Homo sapiens: one gene and its partners. The protein of the gene in region 2 purifies or fractionates together with the protein of the main gene of each other region. This does not show direct contact. Each region holds a gene or a part of one and is shown on either strand. Other genes may lie near its edges.

Region 1 (7,844 bases), on a different chromosome or scaffold from region 2:
CCATTCCAAAAGGGAGACATATCCAAGAAGCAAAGAGTAATAGGACCCAAGTAAGTCCAAAATTCAAGAGGATTACCTTGAGACTCCAAGATAATCTTCCCTGACTCCACTTCAGGGCTTCCTGGATAAACTGGGATGGAGGCTGAGCCTCCACTACCTCAGGAAGCTCCACCCCTATGACTTTGCTAGGCTCAGTCCCACCCCTATGGCGCCCCTATGGCTTTGCTCAGACTTCAGCTCTCCCAAGATGGCACTTCATGCTGGTAGCTCTACAGTCCTGAGGTCTCAATGGCAGCCCTGCTCCCATGGGTCCTCTAGGCATTGCCCTGGTAGAAACTTTGTGGCAGCTCTAACCCTATATTTCTACTGGGCATTGCTCTAGAAAGGCTCTCTGCAGTGGCTCTTCTCCTGGGACAGGTCTCTTGCCTGAGCCCCCAGACTGTTTTCAACAACCTCTGGAATCTAGGTGGAGGAATCCATGCCCCCACAGCTCTTGCATTCTACATGCCTACAGAATTAGTACCACCCCACAAACCCTCCTGAAAACCAATCTGACCTCCTAGAGCCCTGGGCCTGTGATGGGAGGGACAGCCTCAAAGATCTCTGGAATGCCTTCAAGGTTTTTTTCTAATTGTCTTGATGATATCTTCTATTTGTACAAATCTGCTCAGCAAAGGGTTGCTAGTCACAACGTTGGGTTCCTCTCCTGAAAATTCTCTTTCATTCTTTTCCACACAGCCAGGCTGAGAATTTTCCAAAATTTTCTACTCTTCTTCCCTTCTAATTATATTATGTCCTAAGTCATTCCTTTGCCCTCACATCTCTCTATAAGTGGCCACAAGTAGCCATGCAGCAGCCTGAATGCTTTGCTACTTAGTTATTTCTCCCACCAGATAGCCTAGTTCATCACTCTTAAATTCAGCCTTCCATAAAGTCCTTAGGCATAGACACAGTTCATCCCAGTTCTTCACTAATTAATAACAAGGATGGCCTTTACTCCACTTTCCAACAGGGTATTGCTAATTGTCATCTGAGACCTTGTCATAATGGCCTTTGCTATCCATACTTCTATCAACATTTTGGTCACAACCACTTAAATAATCTCTAAGAAGGTTGAGACTTTCCTAGTCTTCTCATCTTATGAGCACTCACCAGAATCACCCTTAACACTCCATTTACGGAAATATAGGCTTTTTCTAGACTGTTCTTCCAAACTTTACCAGCCTCTACCCATTACCTAGTTCGAAAGCTACTTCTATATTCTTAGGTAATCGTTATGAGCAACAGCCCCACTTCTCAGTACCAAATTTCTGTCTTAGTCCATTCTCTGTTGCTATAACTCAATACCTGAGACTGGGTAATTTATAAAGAAAGTACATTTATTTCTTACAGTTCTGGAGACTGGGAAGTCCAAAGTCAAGGGGCCCATCTGATGAGGGCCTTCTTGCTGTGTCATAACATGGCAGAGGTCATCACTCGGTGAGAGAACAAAAGCATATCAGCTCCAGTCTCTCTTCTTATAAAGCCACCCACCAGTCCCATCACTGGGGCACCATCTTGATGATCTTATCTAATCCTAATTACCTCCCAAATATCTCACCTCCAAATATCATCAACAAATGAATTTGAGGACTGTTTCCAACACCTGAAATTTGAGACACATTCAAACCACAGCAGTAGGTATCAGACAGTTTCTATGTTTTGGTTACAGAAATAAATAAATTAGAAACCAGAAAGGAGCATGAAGGCTGAAAGTACTGGGCAAGTCATATCGAATCAGAGTTAATAGCTTTGGTAGAAAAACACAAGGAGTGTTTCTAAGAAGACAATTAGTGCCTTAGGGACAGACATCACACGGGGTAAGAATTGAAACACGAAAGTGAAGACTTCTAGATATTTTATTGAAATTCTATAAAATAACAAGTCCTCTATTTTCCTGAAGACTTCCATTTTATTTTCTCATTTGACTTGAATTATTAGGCCAAGAGTCCTCTCGCTACTACAATTACTTGTGTTAGGACACTAACAATTTTTGCAAAGGCTGGAGGTTAATAGAAAGAGTCTTCTTCTTGCCCCCCAAAAAATTCTGACTCGGCGTTTGTATAATCTCTCACTGAGGGTTGCCCTTCTGAGGAACTACCTGAAGTAAACAAACTATAGTCTCAGATACTTCAGAAATCAGTATTTATTAAGGGTGACAAGTTTCAAATACACAGGATGCTGTACGGCAGGACTATTCAGTCTGGTTGGCTGAGGGATAGACAACAGAAATCTCCAAAGCAGCTCCAAGCATTCTTTCTTCTGTTACAGGCATTTTAAGAGAAGCATGAGGAATGCCCAGAAGTCGAAGAAATATCCCTCTTAGAAGAGCTCACTGGCATCTATCCCCTCATACCTCCTTCCAGTCACCTCTTATCTTTTCCCAGGACTCTGTGCTTAAATTCAATCTCATTATTAGCAGCCACCAACTCCTTCACCCCAATTCAGCCATCACAGTCAAAACACAGATACCCTTCTCCAAACACTGGGATCTCAACTGAAGGAAATTAAAGGTAGTATATTCACTCAAAAAGGGTAAGCCCGACTATGGTAGAATTTCTTACCAAGAATTGCACAGTAGAATCAGTGGGTCAAATCCAGCAACCAGAAGATGTGGCAACCACTCCTTATATTTTGCTTGTGCTTTAATTGCATGATTTACAAATTCATATATATGGTTCCATGGTCCCAATGAGCAACCTTTCCTCAAAAAGTAGCGAAATATCGAAAACTTCTCGTACTTCAGGCAGTATGCCAAATGAAGTTCATTTATCTGGGCTCCATATTTCAAAAGAATGTTCACAATTCCAAAGAACTCACAGCTCCACCATAAAAAATAAAAACAAAAAAAGAAGAAGTTAGACTTTGACATAAGATACTTCTTACAAACAGTTAATAGTAGTTACAGCTGGGGAATAAGTATGGCAGATTAAATAGTGGATGGTTTCTACACATCTAGTGGATTGAGATTAGAGAATGTGGTGGGGCTTTTGCTTTTTACACCCTCCTGCATGGTTTTTAATTTTCAACTGTGAACAGGTATTATTATAATTTAAAACATTCATCTTAAATGTCATTTTAAAAAAAATTATCATTGACAGAAAACTCAAATTGTGATATTTTGTACAAATGAGTATCTTTACTACAAAATACTTTGCTTAACAAAATCAATAAACAACGTGATCAATCCTTAAAACTAAATGATTCTAGGAATCTCTAAGATATCATTTTCCTTAGCAATAACCTTAGCCAATTTCCCTCCCACTTTAAACTTATTTATTTTTCTAGATACAGGGTCTTGCTCTGTGGCCCAGGCTGACGTGCAGTGGCACAATCAAGGCTCACTGTAACTGAACTCCTGGGCTCCAGTGATCCGCCCACTTCAGCCTCCTGAGTAGGTGGGACTACAGCTACATGCCACCATGCCTGGCTAATTTTTAAATTTTTTTGTAGAGACAGAGTCTCACTATGTTGCCCAGGCTGGTCTCAAACTCCTGGCCTCAATGAATCCTCCCGCTTTGGTCTCCCAAAAGGTATGCCACCGTGACTGGCCTTACATTTATAATGGTATTAAAAAAAATTTAAAAACTTTTTTAATTAACACAAATTTAATTTACAATACTACATCTTAAAATTAATTAACTTCTATTATTATCTCCATTGTAGATGCAAAAACTGAAGCTGAGTCACAGAGCTAGTAATTGGCAGAACTGGGATAATGATATCAAACCAAAATCTAACAGTGAATATGACATAGCAAATTTCTGCAATATCTCTTCTCTATTATGAAAACTGAACACTTCATGATATAGCCAAATTGAAGAATATTTTAGAGCCAGATCTATGTTTTCCAAAGTAGGTTACACAGAACTTTAGTTCCTGAAAATGATCCATATGAAAAATACTCTCCAGTGAAAAAAACTGAGAAACCTCCTTATACAGTATACAGTGAGCCTGAGAAAGATAGGATGAATGTATTTTTAAACAATGTGTTAGTTACATTTCCAAATATATGCTCAATGTTTTTATTCAACTTTCAGATACTTTTCAGAAGAGGTACCTTTAAAATTAACAATGGGTCCAATCATTAATCTGAAAAAAGCAAACAAAAGTATAAAATGCCCAAAATTCTGTAAACACAAGAACAATGGTATATATACTTAAATATAAGTTCTATCCTATGTTTCTGGACTTTTCAAATCTTTGTAGATCCATTCCTCTTTTAGGAATTCACAAAGCACACTACAATAAGAAAAATTCTCAAAAGCCCTCTACAAAAGAAACATATTCAATATTATTTAATCCTGTACTTCCCAAACTTATTTAACAATACAACCCCTTTAATCCCATATAATATCTATTAACAATCTACAGAATTAGTATTCTACCAAAACACACTTTAGAAAATCAGCTCTAAACCTCTTCCAATTATTCACATTGCCTTGTATTAGAAGGGGCAAGAGTAAATCCCAAAAGGCTTATAAAACTGCACAGTGCTACAATATAGACCATTTCCCAAAAAAACTACCATTTGTTTGAAGAATAAAATAAACACAAAATAAACTGGAGAAGCATAGAGTTTTGTCAGCATGCCCTGAGCTTCTGGGAAGGTTATTAAAGAAGGTCTCAAATACATGTGCACACTACAGAAACACAAGCAACTTCAACTTCAGGGCTCTATATGACCTTGATTATTACATGTCACTAAGCACACAATAAATCCTTGAGCATGGATAACCTCTGGTTAAAATATAAATTAGTATGTATTTCTCTTAACACTTCAACAAATTCTCTCTGTAGCCCTAATATCAAATTGAGAAAACTCTTCAAGTACCCGAGATTTAAACAAAAGTCTATCTTGTTTAACATAAATATCAAGAATTAATTGTGACATAGAGGGACTGTACATTATATAAGAAGTGAACAACATCAGATACTGAGAGGAGAGATTTAAAAATTAAAATCCAATGTCTAGACCTTATTTTGGGGGTTTGCACATTTTCTACCACTCCGCTCCTTGAAGTTCAAAACTATGCAGAAAAACAGTGCTCACACATAAAAGAAGCACAGTAAGAGAAAATTCAACATGAAAACAAAATTTACTTTAAACAAATAGAAATGGGCAAATATCTTCAGCATTTTATGTTCAATTAGCAAACAAAATATCCAACCAACTTATTAGGTGAATTATAACAGGCCAAATAGTGAGTTTTACTGAATGGCTTTCGACCATTAGCTGAAAACAAGATGAAGACATTCAGTTTTGTCAGATGTGCCCACACGATATGGTGGCTAGAATGGACACAATTAATTCTATGAAACTAATGTAATAACAATGATTAGTATCAACTAGAAAAACAGACAAAACCAGGTGAGCTAAGCCACAATCTACTTCTGTGGCCATATATAAAAGGCATTCATATTTGCTCAAACAGTCCTAAAACTTCTCAACTTCCCTCTTCCTTTCCCATTCCATTTGGAGGAATCTTTTTCTTATATTTCCTCATTCGAGATGGATTACTCAATTACTCTTGAAAGACTGGCTTCATATCAATATAGCTGCTAACTTTTTAGCTCCAAAGGACAAAAACTGCTTTTGTTGCAGGATCTATACAGTAGTGGAGGAGACACCTTTCCATCATCCCTGGGAGTGGTGAAAGGAGCTAAGTGTCATTCTCACAAAGAATACCTACCAAAAATGTTTCAGAACACTGATACTGAGCTTAAAAGTTGAATTAGCTGAAAAAATAATAAGGAAGAGAAAACTTAAAACCTGGGGCACCTTAGGAGGCCAAGGCAGGAGGATCACTTGACCTCATAAGTTTGAGGCTGCGGTGAGCAATGATTGCACTACTGCACTCCAGCCTGGGCAACAGAGTGAAATTCTATCTCAAAACAACAAGAATAAAGAAAATCCAAAGCTGTTATTTATCATTTTCATCACCTTTTGGTGTTAATTGTACTATTTATAAAAGTAGATAAAAGTTTATTAGAATACAACAGGTCAATAGTGCAAGAAAGTCCACAAATAGTAAATTAATAGATTTCAGAGAAATACTAGAAAATATACAAATGAGAAAAGGGAAGTCTTTTAGCCATTAACACCTGAAGTCGGATAGGTGTTAATTACAACAATCATACCAAATTAACACTATCATAACACATTGTTGCTATAAAAATAAAATTTTTAAACTTATACCATTAAACTTACTATCTATTACCAAATCCCTAAAAATTAGAATATCAAATAATTAATTTTGGAAAATTGAATCTTCTAAGTTACCTGGTACCAGTATTGTGACCAAATTTGAATTCTTATAACTGGTAAAAGTGATATAGGAAATTCGTGTATCACTCATTAAGAAAAGTAAGAAGGGCTAGGCGTGGTGGCTCACACCTGTAATCCCACACCAAAAAGCCAAGGCGGACAGATCACTTGAGGCCAGGAGTTTGAGACCAGCCTGACCAACATGGGAAAACCCATCTCTACTAAAAATACAAAAATTAGCCAGGCGTGGTGGCATATGCCTGTAATCCCAGCTACTCAGGAGGCTGAGGCATGAGAAACGCCACAACCCAGAAGGCAGAGGTTGCAGTGAGTCAAGATCACGCCACTGCACTCCAGCCTGGGCCACAGAGCGAGAGACTGTCTCAAAAAAAAAAAAAAAAAGGGAAAAAATAACATATGATAGCTATTTTAAAATTAAGATTATATTCAATTGTCCTTGCTTTATAATTGGTGACTGTAATTAATTTAATTAATTTTAGTCATGTGATTGTAGGCAATCCAAATTTTAAGATGCTTACTTATCAAAAGAAATAACCAAAAACATATTTTTCAGCTTCAATTTTTTTCCCTCAGACACTGGTTATATGACCCTCTTGACATACCAAAGCAAAACCTACTGGGAAAATGATCATTTTCTTGCTTAATTGGAAAAGCTTCATACAGAAACTCAAAATGAATAAGTCTCATATTACATATACAGTAAATGTATAAGCAACCAGCCAGACATTAGATAATAAAAATGTGGTATTTAGTTTTCTTGGAAATAATGAAAGGTTTTCCTTTACCTATTAGGTAACTGGTCTAAAAAAACAAAGATTCTGCATTTTATCAAGATGATTCCCTGTGCTTCATGTTGTCTTTATTCTATCTGATCACTTATGAAAACTCTCTAATAAAGAACTCAGGTTTTTCTACAACTATATAACTTTCTGCATTTGCCTTTTGAAGCCATTTAATTATCACTCTAGATGAGATAAGTGACTATTATTTCACATTGACCTGTGATCCTACTTTGGTAAAGTTTTTTGAACCTTGATATTTTTGACAAAATTCCCACAATCAAATTCTACGTCTCTTTGACCTTAAAGTTTGCTATGTTCTATTTTATAGAATAAGGTGTTGCCCAATTCTAGAATGAAAAATAAAAAGACTAAGAGAATACACCCTCCTAAAACAGATATTTTGAGGTTTTGACTTTATTTTTAAAGGCTAAAAATATAGCATTTTCCAATGACTACTTACTGAAAATCTACCTAAGAATATATTGGTTCAATTACAAGTCTCACATGAAAGAAAATCGCTCATATGCCCTTTCGATAGCACAAAAACAAATTGTAATTATGCTCACATGGCCACTTCAAAGAGCAAAATTTCTAAGAGATGCAAAAACAAAACACACAAAAAAAACAAAACTAAGTTTGTTAACTCATGTCTGTGACCAAGGACTACTGTACACCATACTGCTTCACCTTTACTTTTCTTTTTCTTCTTTGATCCGGGGAGAGACTAGGTCTCC
Region 2 (7,636 bases):
GGACCTTGCTCCTCCCCCAGCCCAGCTAAGCTGGGAAACCACGTGACAGCCAAGAAGTGCAACTGGCCTCAGGCCCAGAGTTGTGGGGGCACCCCGGACACCTGGGTGTCCATGGGAAACTCTGAATCTTGGCCCAGAAATAACCCTGTCCTTCCCCGTTAACTCCTCTCATTCCAGTGCCTGAGCACCTCCCCCTACCAGGTATATCTGTATCAGGGTATAGGTGCACACAAGCTCATGTATACCTGGGCGTACAAGGGCCCAACATGGCCCACGAGTACAGGATATTTAAAGGCCCTCACAAAACAATGACAGGCTTCTAAGACACTTGTCTCTTACTTTCATTCCAACACAAATTGAACTATACTAGGCTTTTGCTTTTTTAGGCCCTAACAGAAATTCCGTGGTTTAGGAGATTAGGTACACCCTCACCACTCCACAGGGAGAATGGCCTGAACGTCAGAGTGAACCCCTGACCCCTTTCCTCTCTGAATGAGGCAAAGCTCAGACTTCACCTCTACCCCTAAACAAGGCACCCAAACACACGTCACAGTAAATAAAGGACATCCAGAAAATATCACAGGCAGAGGTACTTTATTTGGCAATTTTAACATGACACGTAGAGAAAAGAACCCTGCCCTCCTTCACCAGCCTCCCCAGAAATCCCACCTTCCTATTTCAAGACAGAGTAATAACAGCACCATTTTACACGAAAGGGAACAGCCACAGCCTTGGCACCATTTCTGGTTCCACTTTCCATGGAAGGGCAGAGAAGCATTGCTCAAACCCCACCACTGGGTCAGAAACCAGGCAAACAGCAGCAGTCACATCTGACCTTTTGCACACACGAGAGCCCGACACTCATCCTGGCTCCCAAGCCTTCCCAAGGTGACCCTGTCTCAGCCACCATCATGCAGCTCTTCTAGTCCCCTCCCGGCCCACTCTGAGGAGCTGAGCAATGATGAGCAGAATCTTCATGTCTCTGGCAGGCGGAGGAGGGTTCCTGAAGTGGTAGAGATGCTGTGCAGGAGAAAGACAAGGCTGGAGCCAGACGCCTAGGCTCAAGCTGTGAGGAGAACTTAGAACTTGGGAAGGGGTGCTCCCGGGTTCCAGAGAAGAATGAGAGCCACTGGCCTTCACTAGGAAACTAAGCATGAGCTGGGAGGAAATCCCACTTTGGGTCATTGCTCCATAATCTGCCAGAGGCCAGGGAAAGACTCACCAGTCCACTAGCTGGGCCCCAATGAGGTCGTGCACATGGTAGGTGAGGCCAAGCCGCACCACGACAGGCGCCCGCCGGCCCAGGAGCTCTGATAGGAGCAGTTCCCGGTACTTTGCCTTCCGGACCATGCTAAGGACAGCCTGGCGCCCTAGAGGAGAAGTGGCACAGGAAAGGGGAAAGGTGAATAAGGCCTAGAGGCCTGAGGAGCCACCAAAAGGTGAGGGGCTGCAGGCTTGAGCTGCAGATGGGATACCTTTAACAAAGTACTTGATGAATCTCCCAGCTCCAGGCACAGCTAGCCACCAGCTCCCAGCATCTCGGACGGTGAGGACTCCAGCATTCACCAGATGCCTGAGGGCAGTGGGAAGCCAGCAGAGATGAGGGCTGGGCTCTGAGAACCATCTCTCCTCCTCATCCATTAATGTTTACACAAGTCTCCAGAAACACGGGCAACCATGCAAGAGAGACTGGATAACAAAATCCCAGCCTGGGGTGGTTCTGTGCTCGCACCAACTGCCTCTGTTGGTGCAGTTGCTTGTTCCAGGCCCCCTACCTGGACTGCCCTCCCTCCACTTTTTCTTTTCCTGCTACTATTACTGGTTCAGTTAAATAGCTTCTCTTCCCTGACCACATGTCCTGACACACATTCGGTCTTAGGACCGAGGAGAGGAATCAGAGTCTTCTGCGCTCCTGCCACTGCCTAGGCAGACTGCGCCATGGCTCCCACCACATCTCTCTGAGAGTGTGTCTGCCCATGTGAGATCAGTGCTATAGTTTTTCAAATGCTTTCACATATTCCATGGGTTACAAAGTAGGAGGCCTGAGCCAGATACAGCCTCTCAAAATTAGATTTTTATTTAGCTCCTGCCCAGTTGTTTTTTAGCTTTGGGTTTTTTTTGTTTTAATGTGAATGTTTAGGGGTATCCCAGCTCCTACCATTCTCTATCCTCTTAGTCCCAGTATGATTAACATCAAGCTTTTACACTTCCTGCCAGGCCCCTGTGTGCTTTTGATAAGCCACCAAGAACTGAATTCTATTTCAGGGCTCTTTCTAAGGCCCAGGTAAGATAGGCCTCCTCTCTTGTGGGGAGGAATACAAACTTGGGTCATTTTATTAACAAGAAGAGTCAGCTTTTTGGCAGCTTTTCTGGCAGGTTCACCAAAAAAACAGGAGGACAGGCTGGATGGAACTGGAGGGAGGCAGGGAAGCACCAGATGCCTGACTTTGGTTGGTTCCACAAGTCTCACGTGATTTCTGAGTCCCTGAAGCCAAAGGTCTGTGTCATTTGGTCCTGCTGGAAACTAAGGTCCCCACAGGCTGGAAGTACTGAAGCTAGAAATTTCTGCACTGCCCCAGCATACGGTCGGCCATCACAGGCCTTGAGGACCTACAAGCAGAGATGAGAGACATGGTCCATCCCCACCCTCACTCTCTACCAACCTCCACCCCCAGGACAGCATTTCTCTTCCTGTCTTACCTCTTGCTCAGATCCTTCCACCTCTCATACCCTTCTTCTTCCTCCTCCTCTTCATCCTCCTCCCCCTCTTCCTCCCCCCCTCCTCCTCCCCCTCCTTCCTTCCTCCTCCTCCCCCTCCTCTCCCCCCCTCTTTACCCTCTCACTCCTCCCTCTTTCCCTCCTGTCTCTCTCCCTCATATTACTATTTACCAGGGCCCTGTGCCCTCTCCATGGGATGTGGGGGCAGGGAAATTCTTTCTTTTGTTTTTATTTCTGTTTCCCAAGTTCCCTGTCTCCCCCAACCTGTGCCCTCCCCCCAGCACCCCTGACGCACACAGTCACATACTCTGGTCCTGTAGTCCTCAGTGAAGATAATTCCATGGGCATCCAAGTCGAAGCCCAGCTGGACGATTCTGATCTCCCCCTGCTCTTGAAGCTCCTTCTGTCTCCACAGAGAAGAGAGTGAAAAGAGGCGTATCAGGGTAAGATGCTCTGCTATACTCTGGGCGCTCTCAGGCAGGGAGATTTTGTTTGCCAATATGGGGGCATTTTCTCTTAGTAAAGGAAAAACTGTGTGAGAAAATAATCAAGCAAATGACCAAGCAGCCTTTTCCAACTAGCTACCCACATTCTCATCCACCTGCCTTATATATGGTCTATCAAAGAGTCAATATAATTTCTAAGACCAGGCACTAAGATAAAATAGTGATTAAGATGCAGGCTGTGGCTTCAAAACATTAACAGTCTAAATTCTGGGTAGGGTAAGGTGGGGAGGAGTATGGGATTCAATGTTTAAAACAAATAAAAATAAACCAGGACTTCTGTTTACGAGAATACAGCAAGAACTAATCCACCTGTTGAAAATTAACTAAAATCCTGGATAAAAATGTTATTTTAAAATTGTTTAAGACCAGGTACAGTGGCTCATGCCTGTAATTCAGCATTTTGGGAGGCTGAGGTAGCAGGATCAATTGAGGACAGGAGTTCGAGACCAGTCTGGGCAACACAGTGAGACCCCCCCACCCGCCACATCTCTACAAAAAATGTAAAAACAGCCAGGCGTGGGGGCAGACACCTATGGTCCTAGCTACTTGGGAGACTAAGGCAAGAGGATCACTTGACCCAGGAGTTTGAGGCTGCAGTAAGATATGATTGCAACTGGGCAACACAGTGAGACCCCATCTCTTAAAAAAAATTGTTTAGACACTAAAGAGCTCACAGGATAACAGGAATTACCACTAATATAACATCTAAGTAGGCCGGGCGAGATGGCTCAAGCCTGTAATCCCGGCACTTTGGGAGGCTGACGTGGGTGGATCACCTGAGGTCAGGAGTTCAATATCAGCCTGACCAATATGGTAAAACCCCGTCTCTACTAAAACTACAAAAATTAGCCGGGCGTGGTGATGTGTGCCTGTAGTCCCAGCTACTCAGGAGGCTGACACAGGAGAACTGCTTGAACCCAGAAAGTTGCTGTGAGCCGAGATCATGCCACTGCGCTCCAGCCTGGGTGACAGAGTGAGACTCTAACTCAAAAAATAAAAATAAAAATAACTGGGGCCGGGCACGGTGGCTCATGCCTGTAATCCCAGCACTTTGGGACGCTAAGGGTGGATCACTTGAGGTCAGAAGTTCAAGTTCAAGACCAGCCTGGCCAACATGATGAAACCCGGTCTCCATTAAAAATACAAAAATAGGCCAGATGCGGTGGCTCATGCCTGTAATCCCAGCACTTTGGCAGGCTGAGACGGGTGGATCACGAGGTCCGGAGATCAAGACCATCCTGGCTAACACGGTGAAACCCCATCTCTACTAAAAATACAAAAAAAAAAACAATTAGCCAGGCATAGTGGCGGGCACCTGTAGTCCCAGCTACTCGGGAGGCTGAGGCGGGAGAATGGGTGAACCCAGGAGGCAGAGCTTGCAGTAAGCCAAGATCATGCCACTGAACTCCAGCCTGGGTGACAGAGCGAGACTCCGTCTCAAAAAAAAAAAAAAAAAAAAAATTAGCTGGGCGTGGTGTCAGGTGCCTGTAATGCCAGCTACTTGGGAGGCTGAGGCAGGAGAATCACTTGAACTCAGGAGGCAGAGGTTGCAGTGAGCCAAGATCATACCACTGCACTCCAGCTTGGTGACAGGGTAAGACACTGTCTCAAAAAAAAAAAAGTAATTGGAACATGGAGGGCATTTATTAATCTAGGCAAATCTGCCCAGAACATTTTCAAAAGTAACTGGGCGCATAAGGAAACAAAACTCAAAGAGAGAATAAAAACAAACCCCAAAAGACAAGTAATAGTGGAATTATCCTTTCCACGGTCTCCCTCTGATGCCGAGCCGAAGCTGGACTGTACTGCTGCCATCTCAGCTCACTGCAACCTCCCTGCCTGACTCTCCTGCCTCAGCCTGCCGAGTGCCTGCGATTGCAGGCGCGCGCCGCCACGCCTGACTGGTTTTCGTATTTTGTTAGTGGAGACGGGGTTTCGCTGTGTTGGCCGGGCTGGTCTCCAGCTCCTAACCGCGAGTGATCCGCCAGCCTCGGCCTCCGGAGGTGCCGCGATTGCAGACGGTGTCTGGTTCACTCAGTGCTCAATGGTGCCCAGGCTGGAGTGCAGTGGCGGGATCTCGGCTTGCTACAACCTCCACCTCCCAGCCGCCTGCCTTGGCCTCCCAAAGTGCCCAGAGTGCAGCCTCTGCCCGGCCGCCACCCCGTCTGGGAAGTGAGGGGCGTCTCTGCCTGGCCGCCCATCGTCTGGGATGTGAGGAGCCCCTCTGCCTGGCTGCCCAGTCTGGAAAGTGAGGAGTGTCTCTGCCCGGCCGCCATCCCATCTAGGAAGTGAGGAGCGTCTCTGCCCGGCCGCTCATCGTCTGAGATGTGGGGAGCGCCTTTGCCCCGCCGCCCCGTCTGGGATGTGAGGAGCGCCTCTGCCCGGCCGCGACCCCGTCTGGGAGGTGAGGAGGGTCTCTGCCCAGCCTCCCCGTCTGAGAAGGGAGGAGACCCTCCGCCCGGCAGCCGCCCCGTCTGAGAAGTGAGGAGCATCTCCGCCCGGCAGCCGCCCCCTCCAGGAGGGAGGTGGGGGGGTCAGCCCCCTGCCCGGCCAGCCACCCCGTCCGGGAGGTGAGGGGCGCCCCTGCCCAGCCACCCCTACTGGGAAGTGAGGAGCCCCTCTGCCCGGCCAGCCGCCCTGTCCGGGAGGGAGGTGGGGGGGTCAGCCCCCCACGCAGCCAGCCGCCCCGTCCGGGAGGGAGGTGGGGGGTCAGCCCCCCACCCGGCCAGCCGCCCCGTCTGGGAGGGAGGTGGTGGGGTCAGCCCCCCCCGCCCGGCCAGCCGCCTCGTCCGGGAGGTGAGGGGCGCCTCTGCCCGGCCGCCCCTACTGGGAAGTGAGGAGCCCCTCTGCCCGGCCAGCCGCCCCGTCCGGGAGGGAGGTGGGGGGGTCAGCCCCCCGCCCGGCCAGCCGCCCTGTCCGGGAGGTGAGGGGCGCCTCTGCCCGGCCGCCCCTGCTGGGAAGTGAGGAGCCCCTCTGCCCGGCCACCACCCCATCTGGGAGGTGTGCCCAACAGCTCATTGAGAACGGGCCACGATGACAATGGTGGTTTTGTGGACTAGAAAGCGGGAAAAGGTGGGGAAAAGATTGAGAAATCGGATGGTTGCCGTGTCTGTGTGGAAAGAGGTAGACATGGGAGACTTTTCAAAAAAAAAAAAAAATAGTGGAATTATCAAAAAGACAATTAAAAAAAAAAAAAACAGCACTTTGGGAGGCCGAGGCAGGCAGATCATCTGAGTCAGGAGTTTGAGACCAGCCTGGCCAACAGGGTGAAACCCCATCCCTATAAAAATACAAAATTAGGCCGGGTGCGGTGGATCATGCCTGTAATCCCAGCACTTTGGGAGGCCGAGGAGGGCAGATCACGAGGTCAGGAGATCAAGACCATTATGGCCAACATGATGAAACCCCCATCTCTACTAAAAATACCAAAATTAGCTGGGCATGGTGGCGCGTGCCTGTAGTCTCAGCTAATCAGGACAGTGAGGCAGGAGAATTGCTTGAACCCAGGAGGCAGAGGTTGCAGTGAGTTGAGATCACACCACTGCACTCCAGCCTGGGCAACAGAGCGACACTCCACCTCAAAAAAAAAAAAAAAAAAGGGAAAACTAAGGCAACAATGACCACAGCAGTCACCTCCCAGGGACATTCTGATCAGAGACATTTTGATCAGAGAGGGATATATGTGGGATACTGGTCATATTCTATAGTTTGACCTAGGGAGTGGCTAGATAGGTATCTGCTTTATAAACATCATTTAAATTATATATGTTTATATTTTCATTCTGCAACTTTTAAAGGTTTTTAAAAACAAAAGCTAACACCAATACATTAAAATCAACAAATACTCCTTAAGGAGTGGTTCCATCTGGCATGCTTCCTCACGGGAGACCTAGTCAGGGAGACTAGCTCACCTCAAGTGAGTGCTAGACTGCCTTCCTTTTCTTTCCTCTTTTCTTGAAAGATCACTATTAACCTTCTACCTGCTAAATCCAATGGACAGATTTCAGTTCTGGGTTTTTTTGTTGTTGTTTTCATTTTTTTAGAGACAGGGTCTCCCTCTGTTACCCAGCCTGGAGTGCAGTCGTGCAATCATAGCTCACTGCAGCCTCAAATTCCTGGGCTCAAGCACTCCTTCTGCCTCAACTTCCCAAACAGCTAGAACAATAGGTGCACACCACCATGCCCAGCTAAGAATTTTTGTGTTTTAATTTATTTATTTAGTAGAGATGGGATCTCAGTTATTTAGTAAAGATGGGGTCTCACTTTGTTGCCCAGGCTGGTCTCAAACTTTTGGTTTCAAGCTATACTCCTGCCTCAGTCTCCCAAAGTGGTGGGAGTACAGGCATGAGCCACCACACTCAGCCTAGATTTCAGTTTATATTTTACTTTACCTCTTCCCTCTTCTTAGACCA
Region 3 (7,844 bases), on a different chromosome or scaffold from region 2:
CCCACCATCAATGCCTGAAAGAACATTTGGGTGCATTTTCTTCAAGTATTTTTTATGCCTTTATATGTTTATGCCCTAGGGGCTTTAAAGGAGCCTGAACCACTGACATTGGTGATGTGAATGTCTCTTCATTTTCCAGGATTGCTTTGGAATGACATTATATATATATATATATATTTATTTATTTATTTATTATACTTTAAGTTCTAGGGTACATGTGCACAATGTGCAGGTTTGTTACATATGTATACATGTGCCATGTTGGTATGGGATCTAATTAAACTAAAGAGCTTCTGCACAGCAAAAGAAACTACCATTAGAGTGAACAGGCAGCCTACAGAATGGGAGAAAATTTTTGCAATCTACTCATCTGACAAAGGGCTAATATCCAGAATCTACAAAGAACGCAAACAAATTTACAAGAAAAACAACAACCCCATCAACAAGTGAATGACGTTCATGAAACCAAGGTCAAGGACCTTCCAGTGTAGGCAGGAAGCATCTGTTCCTACCTCTGCCTATGCCTCATGCATAGAGGATATGAAAGAGTAGGAAAAGCTGCTCTTTAGAGTAACTCGGGCCTCAGCTCGAATGCTGGATCTGTCCCCTTGCTTCCTGCTGTCCCTAGCCAAGTTCCTTCACCTCTCTGGGCCTCAGTTTCCTCTTCTGTAAAATAAGAATAATAACAGTACCTACCAAAAGTTGTTGGAAAAGTGTATGTATTCAGTGGGCGCTTAATAAGTGGAAACTTATGATTAAGAATGTCATTGTCTGTATCCTTTTGCCTTTGACCTCAAGAGCTATAAGGGAAGAAACATGACTGAACCAGAAGCAAATCCATCGTCTCTTTTTTAGATAAATCCATTGTCTCTTTTTTACAGGCATGAGCCACCATGCCTGGCTAATTTTTTTATTTATAGTGGAGACAGGGTTTCACTATGTTGGCCAGGCTGGTCTCAAACTCCCGGCCTCAGGTGATCTGCCTGCCTCAGCCTCCCGAAGTGTTTGGATTACAGGCATGAGCCACCACACCCAGCTGTCTGTCTGTCTGTCTGCCTCTATATCTATATCTATGTCTATATCTATCTATTTATCTATCTATCTATCGAGAGAATGGAAAACTGAACAGCAGACCAGAGCTAAATTTATCAATATGGATAAATCTCTCAAACAAAGAGGAGTAGAAAAAGTAATTTGCTGCCGGGCGTGGTGGCTCACGCCTGTAATCCCAGCACTTTGGGAGGCTATGGTGGGTGGATCACCTGAGGTCAGGAATTTGAGACTAGCCTGACCAACATGGAGAAACCCTGTCTCTACTAAAAATACAAAATTAGCCAGGTGTGGTGGTGCCTCAACCCGGGAGGTTGAGGCAGGAGAATCACTGAATCCGGGAGGCAGAGGTTGCGGTGAGCTGAGATTGCGCCATTGCACTCCAGCCTGGGCAACAAGAGAAAAAAAAAATAGAAAAAGTAATTTGCGGAAGGATGTGTACAGTGTGGTACTCTTTATTTAAAGTTTGCAGTGCAAAACGATATTGTATGTTTCCAATGTATGCATACAGGATAAAGGAAAATGAAAAAAAAAGCATGCATAGGACTGGGTAGGCACTGAATTCAAGGGAATGGTCACCTGTGGGTTGGAGTTGGGAGGAAGAATGAGCTGGGGCTTCAATCGCATCTTTCTTCTTTCTTTCAAAAACTTTAAACAACTATGGAAAAATCAAGATTTGACAGAGCCACTGGATGGGTGCTCATATTTAAATATGCTTTAAATATTTCATGATTCAAAAAGAGAGAGTGAACTACAGAATTCACCCTGGAATCATGACAGATCATCTCTGTCTGGGAAAGATAGTTCTTCCCTACTGATGACTTCAAGTTTTTTCTCTTTCCTCTTCTCTCCCCAGGCTCTCTTTAAACTGTGGGGCTCCCCAGACAAGTATCCCAAAGACATCCTGACATACACTGAATTAGTGTTGGACTCTCAGGGCCAGCTGGTGGAGATGAACCGACTTCCTGGTGGAAATGAGGTAATAGCTCAGCGGAGCCTAACCCCTGGCTGGAGTCACCCCCTTAAAAATATTTTTGGGCCAGGTGCAGTAGCTCACACCTGTAATCCCAGTGCTTTGGGAGGCCAAGGTGGGTGGATCACTTGAGGTCAGAAGTTCAAGACCAGCCTGGGCTACATGGTGAGAACCTGTCTCTACATAAAATTTTAAAATTAGCTGTGTGTGGTGGTGTGCTCCTATAGTCCCAGCTACTCGAGAGACTGAGGCAGGAGTGATTGCTTAAGCCCAGAAAGTTGAGGCTGCAATGAGCTGTGATTGCACCACTGCACTCTGGCCTGCGCAACAGAGCAAGACCCTGTATCTAAAAAAAATAATAATAACTAAAATAAAATAAAAAGTTTTCCCCCAAAGAAACAAACTCATTTTCCTTGTGCATTCATCCCCTTGCCAGGTGGGCATGGTGGCCTTCAAAATGAGGTTTAAGACCCAGGAGTACCCGGAAGGACGGGATGTGATCGTCATCGGCAATGACATCACCTTTCGCATTGGATCCTTTGGCCCTGGAGAGGACCTTCTGTACCTGCGGGCATCCGAGATGGCCCGGGCAGAGGGCATTCCCAAAATTTACGTGGCAGCCAACAGTGGCGCCCGTATTGGCATGGCAGAGGAGATCAAACACATGTTCCACGTGGCTTGGGTGGACCCAGAAGACCCCCACAAAGTACGTCGTGAAACTGGCGGGGCAGGGTGATTCTGCTCAGCTACTACTGTATTTTCAGTGGGAGTGCTAGCACCTGCAAGAGGTGAAAAAAATCTCACTTATGTATAAAGCACAGATGTACATGTAGTGTATAAACAGGCATACAGTGTATCAGTGATACTAACATTTCACTGTGGCGGGGGGGATGGTGATGAGAAAAAAAAGATCTAAAAAGGCTCCTTAACGGGGATAATGAAAAAAGTCTATAAACCCTGAGCTGATATACACTGAGCGCTCCTGAATGCAGTGTGCACTGAGAATGCAGAGGTGATTGTGTCAACTCCCTGGCCTCATAGCGTTCTTAGAATTATGGCTCACACCTGTCATCCCAGCAACTCAGGAGGCTTGGGTGGGAGGATAGCTTGAAGCCAGGAATTCATGACCAAGCTAGGTAACCTAGGCAGCATAGCCAGACTTCGTCTCTACTAATGAAAAAACTAGGTGAGCATGATGGTGCCTGCCTGTAGTCAGCCTCAGCTACTTGGGAAGTTGAAGTGGGAGGATCACTTGGAGCCCAGGAGTTCAAGGCTGCAGTGAGCCATGATCATCATACCACTGCACTCCAGACTGGGCAACTGAGTGAGACCCCCCATCTCAAAAAAAAAGAAAAATCTTTGGGGAGTTGTATAGATACCAGCTTGCCATAAAAGGCAAGATGAATGAGGGAAGCGCACGCATTCTGTGATGTGAAATGACAGGGGACAGTCATCCTTTCCATTCAGAGCATGCATTCTCGGGGGCGATATTGCCCACTACCCCCAAGAAGACAGAAAAATAATTTTTGGGGTGGCAATAAAATAGTTTTTAACATATATACATATACAGAGTATGTAAATAGTGGTTAAACAGTGTATCTTGAAAATTAAAATTTCATGTTGGGGTGCTGGCAATAAGAAATAAAAATGAGATAGTCCTTAGAGGAGAGCTTAGCTCAAAGCAGAACTTCAGTTTATGGCTGTTATTAATACGGTATTTACATGAGATGTGTTAATGTGTCATTGACATGTTACTAACATGTTATTAACATCCATCCCTACGATGTTCACATTAAGAAAAAAAAAACAGTGGCTTTCAGTGCAGGGAACTGGATTCGTAGCCTCACTAAAGTATTTTTTAAGGGATTTAAATACCTGTACCTGACTCCCCAAGACTACACCAGAATCAGCTCCCTGAACTCCGTCCACTGTAAACACATCGAGGAAGGAGGAGAGTCCAGGTAAATAACTTATCAGGTAGCTCCTTAATTTTGCTCATGGTTAATTTCAGCTGTCTTCTTTCCTCGGGGCTTGTGGCGATATTTTCCAGTGGGGTGGTGGTGTTTGTATGATGGGAACCAATGCCTGTTGGGGGCACTGATGCCTTAAACATTTGTTAAACTCTCCAAGGTGAGTCCATCCTTGTCATTCTAAAATGAGTGACTCCTTTCACAAAAAATAGCACGTCATGTAGGGAGAATGAGATTGGATTCTCGTGAATCTCCTAGGAGCCGCAGGCTCACATTTTGTGACCAAACTGATGCAGCGGTGACTTGGCAAACTGGGAAGGTATGGGTGGGGCAGAGAGAGGTCTGTTCTTCGAGAGCATTCAAAGGCTACTATCTTTTCCAGGACAAGTTATGTTTTTCTCAGTGGGATTAACTGACTCAGGATTTCCTAGACTGGGTTTTTTGCAATGTTAGTGACAAGCTGGGGGGAAATTCCATAGTCAGATGAGTTTGGGAAACACTGGGTTAAATGAGATCTCATAAACATCTTTATTGCAGACCTTCTTAGTACCTGTAGCATGCTGTATTAGTCAGCGTTCTCCAGAGGGACAGGACTAGTAGGATATATGTATATATGAAAGGGACTTTATTAAGGAGAATTGACTCACATGATCATAAGGTGAAGTCCCATGATAGGCTGTCTGCAAGCTGAGGAGCAAGGAAGCCAGTAGTGGCTCGGTCTGAGTCTAAAAGCCTCAAAAGTAGGGAAGCCAATAGTGCAGCCTTCAGTGGCCAAAGGCCTGAGGGCCCCTGGCAAACCACTGGCGTGAGTCCAAGAGTCCAAAGGCCGAAGAACCTGGAGTCTGATGTTTGAGGGCAGGAAGCTTCCAGCATGTGAGAAAGATGAAAGCCAGAAGACTCAGCAAGGCAGCTTACTCCACCTTCTTTCACCTGCTTTTTCTAGCCGCGCTGGCAGCTGGATGACTGGATGGTGCGCACCCACATTGAGGATGGGTCTTCCTCTCCCAGTCCACTGACTCAAATGTTAATCTCCTCTAGCAACACCCTCAAAGACACACCCAGAAACAGTACTTTGCATCCTAAAGTTGACACTTAATATTAACCATCACACATGCTAAAGTGCATTGTGAATCTCTAACAGAGGCTGGCGGGACAGTGTTTCTCATTATGTGGCCCTGGAATTTTTGATTGATTGATTGTGAATGGGTTTCCTCTGTGTACCCCCATCTCTCTGTAGACCGTTGGAGGAATATGGGCCGAGGGTGATATTTCACTGAGACAGCCCCTGAACAGGCAGATATCTTTGGTTGTATAAACCAAAAAGTATCTGAGACAGGTCTCAATCAATTGAGAAGTTTATTTTGCCAAGGTTAGGGACACATCCAGAAGCAAAGAACACGGAATCATAGAAACCGTCTGTGGCGTGTACCTTTCTTCAAAGATGATTTGGAGGGCTTCAGTATTTAAAGGAGAAAAGCAGGCTGGAGGGGAAAGAGGGAAGTTCTGGTAATCACATGTTGCAGGAGAAAAGGCGCAGGCAGGGGAAGTCAGTTATGTATTCTTCCTGCGCTCAGTAAGTCAGCACTTTCTATAAGATAAGGTGGACATAGAGGAACTACCTGTGGAGATATTTCAGCTTTTATCTGTATCTATCTGCTTACTAAAGAAACAAAAGGAAAGGCAGCTTGCACAACTCAGCTTCAGCTTAAATTGTTCCTTTTGGCATTGTGAATCGTGGTCCTAGTTTTTATTTTCCTTTCACAGATGGGAGCAGTGTGATGATTTATTTATTTATTTGAGACAGAATCCCGCTCTGTCACCCAGGCTGGAGTGCAGTGGTGTAATCTTGGCTCACTGCAACCTCCACTTCCCAGGTTCAAGCGATTCTTCTGCCTCAGCTTCCCAAGTAGCTGGGATTACAGGCGTGCACCACCACGCCCAGCTAACTTTTGTATTTTTAGTAGAGATGGGGTTTCGCCATATTGGCCAGGCTGGTCTCAAACTCCTGACCTCAAGTAATCTGCCCGCCTCGTCCTCCCAAACTGCTGGGATTACAGAGCAGGGTGATGATTGTTGATGCTGCACTTGCCCTTTTAGAAATCTTAGCACTCATTTTGAGGGTTCTAGATGCCAATTTCATTTTGCCTCTGGATGCTTTGTCTGCTTCCAATCTCTCACCTTGCTGCCCAGTCAGTCCCTTCTTGGGAAATGCATCCACCTTGGATTTTTTGGGGCTAGAGCCCAGCCTTTAACCTGTGCTTGCTTTTGAAGATACATGATCACGGATATCATCGGGAAGGATGATGGCTTGGGCGTGGAGAATCTGAGGGGCTCAGGCATGATTGCTGGGGAGTCCTCTCTGGCTTACGAAGAGATCGTCACCATTAGCTTGGTGAGTCTTCTTCTATTTTCTCTTACTTTTCAACTTTCCATTATAGAAACTTTAAAATTGTCACAAAATTAGAGAGAATCAATAATAAGCCCCATGTGCCCGTCACATACCTCCTACAGTTACCACATGCCAGCCCACTGATATTTCCTCAATCTCACCCCCATCCCCTGCACCTGTTTTAGAGTATTTTAAAGCCAGCCCCCATCATGTCTTTTCATCCATAAATACGTAAGGGTAGATCTTTAACAGATAATGACTCTCACCCTCTTCCCCCGGTTTTTAAAAACATAACTGAAATACTAATATTACACCCAACAGAATCAGCAATATCATTGAAACCCAGTGTGGTTTAACAGTTATCTCAAAATACCCTTTTCTAGTGGTTTGTTTGAATCAGGGTCCAATCTCATCTTATTTTCAAGGTACTGAATGTTTAGAAGAACTTTTCTCTGACTTTAACTGGCATATAAGGAGTAGTCCCCATCCCATCCCCATGGCCTTTCCAAAAATGTTTTCTGTTTCTAGTAGTAGTACTACTGTAGTAGTAGTAGTAGTACTAGTAGTAATTCTAGTACTAGCAGTGGTGGTAGTAGTGGTGGTGGTAGTAGTAGTAGTGGTAGTAGTGTTTGTGGTGGTGAATCTGTATGGGTCTAAGGCAGAGTGAGAGACCGAGGCAAGTCTCTCAGCAGGAGTGAAAGTTTATTAAAAAGTTTTAAAGCAAGAATGAAATGAAGTACACTTGGAAGAGGGCCAAACAAGGCAACCTGAGAGATCCAAGTGCCTCATCCAACCCTTTTGAGGTTTTATGCATTGGCATGATTCCAGGGTTTGTGTTTCTTCTCCCCTGATTCTTCCCTTGGGGTGGGCTGTCTGCATGCACGTGGTCTGCCAGCACTTAGGAGGGGCCGCATGAACAGTGTGTTTACTGAAGTTGTGTGCATGCTCACTTGAGGCTTTCCTCCTTTACCAGTCGAGTGTTCCTAGAAGAAGGGCACGGTACCAGATAAACTCTGCCATCTTACCTCTTAGCATGCATGCTTGAGCCCACCCACCCAGCTCCTGAGATCTTATGGGGAAGCTGCTTATCACTAGCTTCAGGTGTTTTCTATCTATCAGGAGATTGCCTTTCCCTGGAGCCAGCTGTGACCAATATTAATTTTAGAGAGACACTTTAGCAACTGCCTAACTATCACCTGATGGTTGCCTTCCTCTCCTGCCCTGCTCATGTCTGCTTAACTACCTACTCTAACAGCAGCAGCAGCAGGAATAATAGTACTCTTTAATGATAAACTGCCTTGGAAGGCCTTATTTGTACATGCAATGTTGAATCTTCAGTTTCCAAGTGGAAAATGTTGGTCATAAGCATCTTCCTTGGGCTTGTTTTCTAGATTATATGTATAGTCTTTTTATTTTGAAGTCATCTAGGACCCACCGTAAGTTATAAGATACTACAGAGAAT
Region 4 (7,844 bases), on a different chromosome or scaffold from region 2:
AGTACTCAAGGAAATACTGGCAGAGCCCAGCACCTTCCAAAAAAGGATGATATACCATGACCAAGTAGGATTTATCACAGAAATACAAGGTTGGTTTAACATTCTAAAAACCAGTAATGTTACATACCATATCATTAGAATAAAGAACAAAAAACACATGATTATCTCACAGATGCAGAAAAAAGCATTTGACAATATTAAATACCCTTCATGATAAAAACACTCAAAAAATTAGAAGTAGAAAGGAACTTCCTCAACCTTCAAGAGAATGTCCAAAAAAAAAAAAAAAACACACACCAGTTAACATCATGCTTAATGGTGAAGAATGAATGCTTTCTCCTTAAGATTAGGAACAAGACAAGGATGTCCACTCTTATTTTTTTTTTTTTTTTTTTTTTGAGACAGAGTCTCACTCTGTCACCCAGGCTGGAGTGCAGTAGCACGATCTCGGCTCACTACAGGCTCCGCCTCCCGGGTTCACGGCATTCTCCTGCCTCAGCCTCCCGAGTAGCTGGGACTACAGGCACCCGCCACCACACCCGGCTAATTTTTTTGTATTTTTAGTAAAGACAGGGTTTCACCGTGTTAGCCAGGATGGTCTCTATCTCCTGACCTCGTGATATGCCCACCTCGGCCTCCCAAAGTGCTGGGATCACAGGCGTGAGCCACCGCACCCGGCCAAGGATGTCCACTCTTACCACTTCTACTTAACACTGTACTACAGGTTCTAAGCAGAGCAATTAGCAAGAAAAAGAAATAAAAGGCATCCAGATTAGAAAGGAATAAGTAAAACTGCCTCTATTTGCAGAAGACATGATTGTGTATATAGAAAATCCAAAGAAATACACACATACACACACACCCCCTATTCAAGCTAATACACAACCTCAGCAAAGCAGTATACAAGATCAACATATGAAAATCAATTGTATCTCTATACATTTGCAAAGAATCCAAATAGGAAATTAACAAGATAATTCCATTCTAAATAGCATCACAAAGAGTAAAATATTTTGTTTTGTTTTGAGACGGAGTCTTGCTCTGTCACCCAGGCTGGAGTCTGCAACCTCCGCCTCCTGGATTCAAGCGATTCTCCTGCCTCAGCCTTCTGAGTAGCTGGGATTACAGGCATGCACCACAACACCTGGCTAATTTTTGTATTTTTAGTAGAGACAGGGTTTCACTATGTTAGCCAGGCTAGTCTCGAACTTGTGACCTCAGGTGATCCCCCTGCCTTGGCCTCCCCAAGTGCTAGGATTACAGGCGTGAGCCACTGCACCTGGCCAGAGTGAAATATTTTAGGTATAAGTTTAACAAAAGAAGTGCAAGACAGGTATGCTGCAAATTACAAAATATTGCTGAGACAAAGTATAGAGCTACATAAACAGAGAAACATTCCATCTACGTGGAGTGGAAGACTCAATATGTTAGGATGTAAATTCTCACCAAATTCATCTACAGACTCAATGCAGTTCCTATCAAATCTCAGCAGGCATTTTTGTAGAGTTAAGAGCTGATCGGGCTGGGTGCGGTGGCTCACGCTTGTAATCCCAGCATTTTCAGAGGCCGAGGCGGGTGGATCACCTGAGATCAGGTGTTCAAGACCAGCCTGACTAACATGGTGAAACCCTATCTCCACTAAAAATACAAAAATTAGCTAGGTGTGCTGGCACGTGACTGTAATCCCAGCTACTCGGGAGGCTGAGGCAGGAGAATCGCTTGAACCCAGGAGGTGGAGGTTGCAGTGAGCTGAGATCATGCCACTGTGCTCCAGCCTGGGCTACAAAGCGAGACTACATCTAAAAAAAAAAAAAAAAACCAAGTTGGAGGATTTTACACAACTTCAAAACTCCTATAAACTACAGTAATCAAGACAGTGTGGTTCTATTTTAAGGACAGACATAGAACAATGGAAGAACTGAGAGTTCAGAAACAAACCCTTACATTTATGATCAACTGATATTTTTATCAATGTGTCAAGACAATTCAATGGGGAAAGAATAGTTATGTCAATTAATGGTGGGAGACAAGAGTGATGTTAGACTCTTCTGTCACACCATATACAAAAATTAACTCAAAATGGATCACAGACCTACTATAAGAAAGCTGGCTGGGCTCTCTTATATGTACTTGTGTATGTAGATATATATATATATATATACATATATATATATATATATATATATATATATATATCTACACACACACACACACACACGCACACACACACACACTAGCCAGGTTTGGTGGCAGGCACCCATAATCCCTGAGATAGCGCCATTGCACTCCATCCTGGGCGACAAGAGTGAAACTCCATCTCAAAAAAAAAAAAAAAAAAAGAGCCAAACCTACAAAAAAAACTCCATGAAGAAAACAAAATCTTCATGACTTTGTATTACAAGTTTTTACATATGACAATAGAAGCATGACCCACAAAAGAAAACTTGATAAACTGGACTTCAAAATTAAAAACTTCTCCACCTCAAAAGCCACCAGAGGCTGGGCACATCGGCTCATGCCAGTAACACCAGCACTCTAGGAAGCCGAGGTAGGAGGACAGTTTAAGTCCAGAAGTTTGAGAACAGCCTGGGCAACATAGTGGGACCCTCACCTCTACAAATAATGAAAAAAAATTGCCAGATGTGGTAGCATGTGCCTGTGGTCTCAGCTACTCAGGAGGATGAGGCAGGAGGACTGCCTGACCCCGGGAAGTCCAGGCTGCAGTGAGCCATGATTACACCACTACACTTCAGCCTGGGTGACAGAGTGAGACCCTAGCTCAAAAAAAAAGCCACCACAGGCTTGGGGCAGTGGCTTGTAATCCCTGCACTTCGGGATGCCGAGGCAGATCGCTTGAGACCAGGAGTTCAAGACCAGGCTGGGCAATGTAGTAAGACCCCATCTCTACACACAAAAGAAATTTTTCAAAAATTAGCTGGGTGTACTAGTGTGTGCCTATAGTCCTAGCTACTCCGTAGGCTAAGGCAGGAGGATTGCTTGAGCCCAGAGTTCAAGGCTGCAGTGAGCTGTGATTGCACTAACGCACTCTAGCCCAGGCAACAGAGCAAGACCCTGTCTCTAAAAAATAAAATAAAAATAGGCTGAGTGTGCTGGCTCACGCCTGTAACCCCAGCACTTTTAGAGGCCAAGGGAGGCAGATCACCTGAGCTCAGGAGTTCAAGACCAGCCTGGGCAACATGGTGAAACCCTATCTCTACTAAAAATACAAAGAAATTAGCTGGACGTGGTGGCATGCACCTGTAATCCCAGCTACTTGGGTGACTGAGGCACGAGAATCACTTGAACCCAGGAAGTGGAGGTTGCAGTGAGCTAAGATCACACCACTGAACTCCAGCCTGGAGGACAGGGTGAGGCTGTCTCAAAAAATAAAAAATAAAAATAAAAATAAAGCTACCACTAAGAAAGAAAAGACAAGCCACAGACTGGGAGAAAATACTTACAAATCATATATATGATAAAGGACTTGTATCCAGAATATATGAAGAACTCTTACAACTCAAAAACCCAATTACGAGATGGACAAAAGATCTGAATAGACATTTCAGCAAAGAAGGTTTACAAATGACTAATATGTACATAAAGATGCTCAACATGATTAGTCATCTGAGAAATGCAAACTAGAACTACAGTGAGATACCATTACACACCACTAAAATGGCTATAGTCAAAAAGACTGGACCAGGCACAGTGGCTCACGCCTGTAATTCCAACACTTTGGGAGGTTGAGGCAGGAGGATCGCTTGACCCCAGGAGGTCGAGGCTGCAGTGAGCTGTGATCATGCCACTGTACTCCAGCCTGAACAACAGAGTGAGACCCTGTCTCAAAAAAAGACTGGCTGGGTGCGGTGGCTCACGCCTGTAATCCCAGCACTTTGGGAGGCCAAGGCAGATGGATCGTTTGAAGTCAGGAGTTCAAGACCAGCCTGGCCAACATGGTGAAACCCTGTCTCCACTAAAAATACCAAAATTAGCCAGCCATGGTGGCACATGCCTGTAATCCCAGCTGCTCGGGAGGCAGAGGCAGGGCAATCACTTGAACCTGGGAGGCAGAGGTTACAGTGAGCCCAGACTGCACCATAGCACTCCAGCCTGGGCCACAGAGTGAGACTCCATCTCAAAAAAAAAAAAAAACCAAGGCTGGGCATGGTGGTGGCTCACACCTGTAATCCCAGCACTTTGGGAGGCTGAGGTGGGCAGATCACGAGGTCAGGAGATCGAGACCATCCTAGCTAACATGGTGAAACCCAGTCTCTACTAAAAATACAAAAAATTAGCCGGGCGTGATGGCAGGTGCCTGTAGTCCCAGCTACTCGGGAGGCTCAGGCAGGAGAATGGCGTGAACCCAGGAGGTGGAGCTTGCAGTGAGCCGAGATCGCACCACTGCACTCCAGCCTGGGCGACAGGGCAAGACTCTGTCTCAAAAAAAAAAAAACAAAAAAAGACTGACAATACCAAGTATCAACAAAGATATGGAGAACCTGCAACCCTGAACACATTGCTCATGGTAATGTAAATGGTTTAGTTGTTTTGGAAAACCATCTGGCAATTTCTTAAAAAGTTATAAACAAGCTTATCATAAAACCTACAATCCCACTCTTAGGTACCTATCTATCCAAGGGTTATGAAAACATATATCCACACAAAGTAATACACAAATGTTCACAGTAGCATTTACTCATGATAGCCAGGAACCAGAAACAATCCAAATATCCTTCAACTGGTAAATGATGAAAATACATAAAATATTCAATAGATATTATTCACCAATAAAAAGGAACAAACTGATACATATTACAATATAAATGAACCTCAAAAAACATGGTGCTTAGTGAAAGGAGTCAGATGGAAAAATTTGTAAAATAAGAAAGTTGGGTGAGGAATTGACTGTGGTTAGGTGGGAACTGACTGCAAACAGGCAAGAAGGTATTTTTGGAGTGAGTGGCAGGTTTGAAAACTAGATTATGGCTGTACAACTCTAAAAATTAATTTAAAATTACTGAATTATATTTTCACAATGGGTGGATTTTATGGTTTGTAAATTATATCTCAATAAAGCTACTTTTCTTTTTTGAGATGGAGTCTCGCTCTGTCACCCAGGCTGGAGTGCAGTGGCATGATCTCAGTTCACTGCAACCTCCACCTCTCAGGTTCGAGCAATTCCCTGCCTCAGCCTCCCGAGTAGCTGGGATTACAGGCGCTCGCCATCACGCCCGCCTAATTTTTGTATTTTTAGTAGAGACAGGGTTTCACCATCTTGGCCAGGCTGGTCTTGAACTCCTGACCTAGTGATCCACCCACCTCGGCCTCCCAAAGTGCTGGGATCACAGGCATGAGCCACCGTGCCCGGCCCTATTAAGCATTAAGCTCTTTTTTTTTTTTTTTTTTTTTGAGACGGAGTCTTGCTCTGTCGCCCAGGCTAGAGCGCGGTGGCGCAATCTTGGCTGACTGCAAGCTCTGCCTCCCGGGTTCATGCCGTTCTCCTGCCTCAGCCTCCCAAGTAGCTGGGACTACAGGCGCCCGCCACCACACCTGGCTAATTTTTTGTTTTTTTTTAGTAGAGATGGGGTTTCACCGTGTTAGCCAGGACGGTCTTGATCTCCTGACCTCGTGATCCACCTGCCTCGGCCTCCCAAAGTGCTGGGATCATAGGTGTGAGCCACCACACCTGGCCAAAGCTATTTTTTAAAATATCAAGATCATGGAGAACAAAGACAGGAACTGCTCCAGATCAAAAAAGATTAAAAAGAGATAACATCTAAAGTCAATGCTTTATTCTGGATTGGATCCTGGCCAGGAGGAACATATATATATATACATATATACACACACACATATATATGAGAGACAGAGACAGAAAGAGCGAGAGCGCGCACATAGAAAGTGCACACATGCCCAGAGCACACACTATAAAGGACTTAAGTCCTGAATAAGGATAATGAATTAGAATAACATCGATGAATCGATGTTAAATTTCCTGATTTTTATTACTGTATTCTGGTTATTTAAGAGAATATCTTTATTCTTTAGAAATACCCAATGAAGAACTTAGGAGGTAAAGAAGACATAGTATCTCCAATTTATTCTCAAATATTTCAGAAAAATGTAACATGCAAATATGTATATATGGAGAGAGAATAACAGAACAAATGGAGAAAATGTAAACAACTGGTGAATCTGGGAAAAGGACATATAGGAGTTCCCATACTATTCTTGTCATTTTTCTGTGAAGTTTGAATTTTTTTTTTTTTTTTGAGACAGAGTCTTGCTCTGTCACCCAGGTTGGAGTGCAATGGCACAATCTTGGCTCACTGTAACCTCTGTCTCCCAGGTTCAAGCAGTTGTCCCACCTCAGCCTCCTGAGTAGTTGGGATTACAGGCATGTGCCACCATGCCCAGCTAATTTTTGTATTTTTAATAGAGACAGGATTTCACCATGTTGGCCAGGCTGGTCTTGAACTCCTGACGTCAAGAGATCTACCTGCCTTGGCCTCCCAAAGTGCTGAGACTGCAGGTGTGAGCCACCGTGCCCAGGCTGAAGTTTGAAATTTTATCAAAATAAAAAGTTACCAAAAAATAACACAGGCAGGAATAAGTGAGTGGAGGTATCAATATGACAAGCAGCATTAGTAAGCAATTAATTAAGCAATGAAGATCTGAAAGTAAAGACTAGCCCTTGAAAACAAAAATTAAAAGCCAGGCGTGGTGACTCACTCCTGTAATCCCAGCACTTTGGGAGGCAAACGCAGGCCAATCGCTTGAGTCCAGAAGTTCAAGATAAGCCTGCGCAGCATGGCAAAACCCCGCCTCTATAAAAAAAATACAAAAAAAAATTCACCGGATGTGGTGGTGCATGCCTGTGGTGCCAGCTATTCAGGAGACTGAGGTGGGATGATCGCTTGAGCCCAGGAGGCTGAGGTTGCAGTGAGCAGAGATCATGCCACTGCATTCCAGCCTGGCCAACCAAGACACTGTCTCTAAATAAATAAATATTAAAAAAAAAAAAAAAAACCAGCTGGGCGCGGTGGCTCACACCTGTAATCCCAGCACTTTAGGAGGCCGAGGTGGGCGGATCACAAGGTCAGGAGTTCGAGACCAACCTGGCTAATATGGTGAAACCCCGTCTCTACTAAAAATACAAAAATTAGCTGGGCGTGGTGGCAGACGCCTATAGTCCCAGCCACTCGGGAGGCTGAGGCAGGAGAATCACTTGAGCCCAGGAGGCAGAGGTTGAAGTGAGCCGAGATCGGGCCACTGCACTCCAACCTGGGAGACAGAGCCAGACTCTGTCTCAAAAAAAAAAAAAAAAAACCTCCTCCAGACCCATAAAGATGTATTCAACTAGATGATATTCTAAAATCCAGTCAAGCTCTAAAATGTGGTGGTTTATCACCACGTCTCTGAGGGCCGCTCTTTTGTTTCTAAACAGGAATGACTTCCAGGCCTAAACTGCTTAGGCCAAGCCATCCACAGAAGTAAGCCTGCAGAGCAGGGATGATAAGAGTGGCTGGCCTGATTAAAAACAATGTCTGCCTGTCTCCTTCCTTTCTTCTCCCTGGAAATGTTGCCAGTTTCTGTCTGCAGTATCTCTCTCCCTCATCCCAGCCTCTTACTGTATCTCTCACAAATATACTTTATACTTCACATAACACATTATTTTATGTTTCTTTTCATTTCTTTCTCTCATAATTTCAGTCTGTAAATAAGCAAAGAGATATCAGTAATGAGGTTCGCCAAATGTTTCTGAATGGTAGGATCTGGGGTGATTTCATTCTTCTTTGCACTGTGGCTTGGACTTTATTTAATAATCCTGTAGTGTTTTAACT

What was found.
Region 1: the proteins of WHR1 (region 2) and ASB3 purify together in Homo sapiens (affinity purification with mass spectrometry, with the first as the bait; one large-scale study listed by BioGRID). This does not show direct contact.
Region 3: the proteins of WHR1 (region 2) and ACACB purify together in Homo sapiens (affinity purification with mass spectrometry; one large-scale study listed by BioGRID and IntAct). This does not show direct contact.
Region 4: the proteins of WHR1 (region 2) and PCCB purify together in Homo sapiens (affinity purification with mass spectrometry; one large-scale study listed by BioGRID and IntAct). This does not show direct contact.

Annotation. Positions count from the first base shown.
Region 1 is NC_000002.12:53,697,668-53,705,511, forward strand, and holds part of ASB3 (ankyrin repeat and SOCS box protein 3), read right to left. Parts: intron 2,862-7,844; coding exon 2,604-2,861; intron 1-2,603. Other genes in the region: GPR75-ASB3 protein, read right to left, coding at 2,604-2,861. UniProt on the Homo sapiens protein: Probable substrate-recognition component of a SCF-like ECS (Elongin-Cullin-SOCS-box protein) E3 ubiquitin-protein ligase complex which mediates the ubiquitination and subsequent proteasomal degradation of target proteins. Recognizes TNFRSF1B.
Region 2 is NC_000006.12:31,974,388-31,982,023, reverse strand, and holds the end of WHR1 (winged helix repair factor 1), read right to left. Parts: intron 3,122-7,636; coding exon 3,026-3,121; coding exon of another isoform or gene 3,014-3,025; intron 2,611-3,013; coding exon 2,471-2,610; intron 1,574-2,470; coding exon 1,476-1,573; intron 1,371-1,475; coding exon 1,223-1,370; intron 1,021-1,222; coding exon 975-1,020; 3' UTR 578-974; downstream 1-577. UniProt on the Homo sapiens protein: DNA-binding protein which is required for efficient transcription-coupled nucleotide excision repair (TC-NER). Acts as part of a TC-NER complex which assembles and interacts with RNA polymerase II (RNAPII) when it stalls at DNA lesions.
Region 3 is NC_000012.12:109,243,720-109,251,563, forward strand, and holds part of ACACB (acetyl-CoA carboxylase 2), read left to right. Parts: intron 1-1,906; coding exon 1,907-2,029; intron 2,030-2,459; coding exon 2,460-2,729; intron 2,730-3,886; coding exon 3,887-3,984; intron 3,985-6,264; coding exon 6,265-6,385; intron 6,386-7,844. UniProt on the Homo sapiens protein: Mitochondrial enzyme that catalyzes the carboxylation of acetyl-CoA to malonyl-CoA and plays a central role in fatty acid metabolism.
Region 4 is NC_000003.12:136,262,440-136,270,283, reverse strand, and holds part of PCCB (propionyl-CoA carboxylase beta chain, mitochondrial isoform 1 precursor), read right to left. Parts: intron 1-7,844. UniProt on the Homo sapiens protein: This is one of the 2 subunits of the biotin-dependent propionyl-CoA carboxylase (PCC), a mitochondrial enzyme involved in the catabolism of odd chain fatty acids, branched-chain amino acids isoleucine, threonine, methionine, and valine and other metabolites.